Linked DNA regions of Homo sapiens: region 1 is linked to region 2. The links come from fine-mapping of genetic effects on gene expression. Tissue or cell type: whole blood. Region 2 holds a variant in brackets; the other region holds the start of a gene. All regions are shown on one strand. Distances are between the middles of the regions.

Region 1 (2,500 bases), 110 kb after region 2:
AGCACCGTCCGGCCTGAGGAATGTGCAGACCCACATGTGCTGGAGCATCCCGCTGGGGCACAGTGACAGGAAACTGAGCAAAACAGCTCGTTGGCACTGATATGCCCCTCCCACCTCCCAGCTCCTGACTCCTATGGGCTGTTGGCTGCCCTGGAAGTGCAGGCGGCAAGCCCAGGCCCTTCAAGAGAGCCAGGCAGTGTGGCTCTGGGCAAATCACTCCCCCTCTCTGGGCCTGTTTCTGCTTCTCTTGGTGGATGAAGGACGCTGTCCTGCCAAGCTCAGAATGGCAGTGATTTTATGACATGCTCTCCTTTCTGGGAGGACGGTCCATTCTCCTCATGCCCTCATTCATGTGGGATGGGGCATGCCCCCAAGACACATCAAGCTATCCCACTAGCAGCCCTTGGCTGTAGAAAGCCCCCCCACCCAGTGCAGGGATAAGGGTGACCCTTCAGAGTTGAAAGGGGTGACCAGGAACCTGGGAGAGTCCCAGGAAAGCCCAGGGTTGGAGCTTCAGGGCCAAAGTGGTTAACTGAAAATATTCATTATCACCCCGCCCAGGCTGGAGGCCCCTGGCTTCCAGTTTTGAAGCAGAGGTCAGCTGGGCGGTGTAGGACACTGCTCCCGGGTTGACCAATGGGCCACATCAATGGGTCTGCTGTTTGGGGTCAAGATCCCAAGACCCCAGGGGAAGTCAACATCCATCTGAGGCTCTCTCAGGCCCTGCAAGCCATCTCTGGCCTCACTGCCCTCCCCTTTAGAAATGTGGGAATGAGGCTCAGAGAGGTTGAGCTGCTTGCCAAGTTTGCATAGCCAAAAGGCGTCTGAACGAAACTGAGCATTCGGGGTTGGACTTCCCCTCTTCGCCGCCTGCTCTGCTCTCCCAGGCACTACTGAGCGCGCTCGCGGTCGCCAGGAGCGGATTGGGCCCCCGCCGCGCGCAAGCCTTGGTGACAGGTCAGCCCGCCCCTAGGGGAGGCAGAGGGAAGCCCCGAGGAGGCACCCGGCCCGCTGGGGCGCGCTGCCCGGGGCTTTAGGGCTTTTTCTTGTGGGCCGGCCGAAGCTCCCCGGGGTTGAAAGGAAAGGCTCGGGAATTTCGCAGCCAGCACAGAACGGTTGGATTTAAACTAAAAATACCCGCCCGCCCGCAGCTGTCACGCCGGGGCCCCCGCCCCCGCGCCGGGCGCGCCTCCCCAGGTCCCCCAGACTTTCGGCGCCCCCGATTCCCGGGGCTGTGTCAGAGCTGGGCCAGGGGCTGAGGACCCCACCCGCCCGGCCCCCGGCCCCCGGCCCCCGGCCCCAGGCCTGGCCTCCCGGCCCCGTGCCACTTACCCTCCCGGAGCGTGGAGGAGCGCGGCGCCGCGGGTAGCTGGGGCCGAGCCTCCTTCCCTCCTCCCTGCGTCCCGGGCGGCTCCGGGGCGGGGCAGGGCTGGGGCGGGCCCGGACACCGCGAGTACCCCCGCCCCCGCCGGGACCCGCCCGGTGGCCCCGCGGGAGAGGCCGCGCCCCTCTCCGCACGCGCTCAGCGGAGGCCCCGGGTGCGCAACCCCAGCCCGGCGGACATCCTGCGTGGCCCCGGGGACCAGGGCCGAAGAAAAGCCTCACCGCTCCCTGTCGCGGACCCGGGGCGGGGGTTAAGGGGGGGGTCCTGTCCACGCTTGCCTGGAAAGCAGCCCGGAGCCCTGGCCCCTGTCTGTCTCCCCGACACACACACAGCCACCCACCCTCTTCTCATCCTAGGGGATGGCGCGGAGCTGCCTCTCCGGGAAAGTTGGATCTGTGCGCCCAGACATGGAAAAGGGATTAGGACACCGGCAGATCTTGCCCTCACAGAGCGGAGGTGGGGGCCTTGGAAGGGGCACACCGCCCGTAGGCGCGAAATCCAAGAAGAAAATGACACTCATCAGCCAGCCTCGCGCGGGGAGAAAGGGCGGGGTGGGGGGTAGTGGCACCCTGCCCGTCCTCTCCCACCCCCACAGTCCGGGCCCACAGTCCAGGAGTCACAAGGGATGTGAATCCCCAGGCATAATGTGAACCCCCAACAAACCCAAGGCCTCAGAATGCGCCTCACCTCTCCCTCCCCACCAGCAGAAACATCCTCCCACTCTCCCAACCCCTGCTCCAGCCACGCCAACCCTTTAACCTTGTCCCAGAATGTCTAAACTGTATCTGCCTCTGTGCCTGTGCACATGAAGTTGCCTTGGCCCGGCGTTTGCTCCACAGCCTTCTGCCAAACTCCTACTGCTTGATGGCTGGAAGCCTTCGCACCCTGGCGCTCTCCTCCCAGGTCAGCAGTCACTGGCCTTCCTGTGCATCCAGCCCAGCTTTGAACAGTCCTGGGCCCCAACCCTTATCTTTTTCCGAGTAATTACATGGTTGCATGATTGGCTTCACCGCCTCTGGATCAGATGAGCGCTACTAATGAAGGATACAAGTTGTAAAACTAGGTTTTATGTGAACTCCAGTCATCACAGTTTAGGTGCGGCTAGCGATTTTACAG
Region 2 (2,753 bases):
GCCTGCCCATGACCCCCACCCCTGAGACTGTGAACGAGGAGGTCTGGAGAGATGCTGAGAATGTGTTTGAAGATGCTCCCAGATGAGGCTGATATCCACATGAGATTGAGTGTTGCTGTCGCCCTGAGTTCAACCTCTGCATGAAAGAGGTTGAACTGGAAGTCAGAATTTTACAATGTCAGCCTTAGCCACATGTCATCTTTCTTCTCATAACCTCTTGGACAAACTCCTTTACTTCAGAAAACGAATTTCCAAACCACACAGTATTTCATAGACCAAAATAGAGATTTTTATTTCCAAACACAAAGCAGATACATTTTTAAAAACATAAAACAACAGCAAAAACGTCAAACCATCTTTTAGAACACTGCTACTTCCAACTTGCACAAAAGGAAGGGGAGGAAAACGTCAATGCAACTTTAAAATATAGCACTAAGAAGAAACTCCGGGGTCCTGGTGTTCCTCCCTGGATGGCGGGGAAGGCTCCATTAGCTTTGGACTTGATATGAACCGAGATAACACACACATGTTCCGAGACAGTCGTTTGGCTCCAATACTGCTTGCCTTCCCAGAAAGCTTAATTTATTGCAAATGCATGTTTTACCATCACAAATAATATGACAAGAGTAGATATGGTCCCTCTGCGTATTGTTTACATAATAGAATATTTAAAACAATGGAATGTGTTTGTCTTTGACATCAAAAATCATTTATGCAGCATCTACATGCACATATACACACACAAGTGTGAACGCATACACAAACACACACACACAGACACACACACACACACACACACACCCCATGCCATTGCTTGGTCCACACTGCATGAAACACACCATTCCAGCTACATGAACAGGTCAGTATCAGGTTAGTGTAACCAGGTCTCCAGGTACAAAGGATGAAGTGGGTTTGCTCACATAGACTTAGCTTAGGGTAGAGTGAACTTGTTTATGAGAACCTCGTTTATGCAGAGGTTGGACTCAAGGCGATCGCAGCACTCAATCTGGTGTGATCATCAGCGTCATCTGGGAGCAGCTTCAAAAACATTCTCAGCATCGCCCCAGACATCCTTGTTCACAATCTCAGGGGTGGAGGTCATGAGCAGGCCAAACTCACTCTACCCGACCTGCTGCCTCCAGGATGGGTTCTGAGGAGACATGGGGCCCTCCCATGGGACGGATGACAAATGAAACGAAAAAATCCATCTGGGTGGGGGGCTTTGGAATGAGGGCTCTGGTCTTTCGGACTTGAA[AT/A]TGGAGGGAAAACGTAATCGTTCCTCCAAAGCTGGTATTGGAAACTTGCCATTTTCCCAACACACACACACAGAAAGAGAGAGAGAAAGGAGAAAATTTAGGACCCACAGAATTAAGCCCTCTTTCAAAGCAGGTTATCTGCTATCCTGAGAAAAAGAGGGCATCGTGTCTAAACCAGCCCAAGGAAATTCCCAGATGACACAGATCTAAGGGGTCATCTGACCTTCCCTTCTTTATGGAGAATGCCAGGGAGAGGCATAAAAACTCTGGACTTTGGGTAAAACGTCCTGAGCCCGATGTGGTCTCCCTGGCTTCTGAGAGACCACAGGCTGGTGTCTGTTGTGCTGAAGCCCAGAGCTGGAAGCCAGGGCTGCCCAGTTGTGCTTCTGCATGGAGATGTGTGTAGTACTCACACATGCTATGCTCACATACGCGTGCATCCCTCCCACCCTGCCCACCCCTTCACATGCACACACAGCTTCCTCTGTCCGCTTCCTCCTCCCCAGTAAAACTTCTGGAACATGCACAAGCGACTGCCTCCTTGTTTCTCCCATGAGAGGAATTGGAACTGCTCAGCAGGCAGAGACCGCGCAAAGCCAACTCTGTCCTCTGCCTGCCCCCGCAAGGGCTGGCCTGTCCGTGCTTTTCCAGTGGGAAGGTAGACAGACAGTGGGTACCTGCTCCCGTCCCCTGGGACCTCATCCTGGTGTTGCCAGCTCCCTTCAGCGGTGGGAGTCAACGGACTTCCCCGCAGGAGTGGGCACAGGAGGAAAGCAGCATGCTGCCCCTGCTTTGGAATGTTGCCCTCCAGCTAACTCACCAGCTGCCAGAGTGGCAGCAGCCCGCGGCCTGCAAAGGAAAGGAAAGCAACTGAGGCCCAGGGAACATTCCATAGAGTGGAGCACTGGGCTCGGAGCCAGTCATGCCTGGGTACAAGTCCCAAATTTACCACTCCCCGCCTAGCTGGCTGCTCTGAGGCAGGCTGCTGACCCTCTCCACACTCTGGTTTCTGATCATGACTCCATAGCACAGGCTTTTTGAAAGTGTCATGACCATATTGCAGGCGCTCGGGGTATGTTTTCTTCCCTCCCTTTCTCATCAGAACAGGAAGAGGGACTGTAGGACTTTGTCCCTCATCTCCACAGAGGTGCTGGGGATGGGCTGGCCTGGTGTTCCTGGTTGCTGAGCTCAGAAGCAAGCGTTTCAGAAAGGAAGCCCAGGATCCTCGGGGGAAACCGAGGTCCCTCCTTATGATTGCTGTCTCTCGGCTGGACAAGGTGGTTGGGTTGGGGATGATGTTACCATGACAACCGGAGAGCAGGTGCTGGGAGATGCTGAGTCCTGCTGACTGTGCTTTAAGGCCCTGAACATCCTGCTGAACCATTTGCTTTTAGACCACGAGCCTGTGTTTTAATGTTCTTTTAGAAACAAATTCCTCCTTGTTCTTACTTTGAAAAACAGAAGTCGTTTCTCTCATACACAGAAGCTAAGGGAGAA

What was found. PIP is the estimated chance that this variant, and not a neighbour inherited with it, causes the effect.
Region 1: SYNE3 starts here. The variant in region 2 is fine-mapped to the expression of SYNE3 in whole blood (INTERVAL, PIP 0.98).

Annotation. Positions count from the first base shown.
Region 1 is chr14:95,515,264-95,517,763 of GRCh38, forward strand. It overlaps SYNE3 (spectrin repeat containing nuclear envelope family member 3), which reads right to left and starts at 1,387. Exons shown (of 18, transcript NM_152592.6): 1 at 1,333-1,387. SYNE3-AS1 (SYNE3 antisense RNA 1) reads left to right here and starts at 857. Exons shown (of 2, transcript NR_188030.1): 1 at 857-957; 2 at 1,741-2,500. RefSeq lists silencers at 789-1,083, 833-1,642.
Region 2 is chr14:95,407,000-95,409,752 of GRCh38, forward strand. SYNE3 (spectrin repeat containing nuclear envelope family member 3) reads right to left here. Exons shown (of 18, transcript NM_152592.6): 18 at 267-2,753. Among named protein-coding and RNA genes, the nearest start is that of LINC02292, 79 kb to the left of the region's middle. The variant AT/A (reference allele first, on the strand shown) is at 1,256.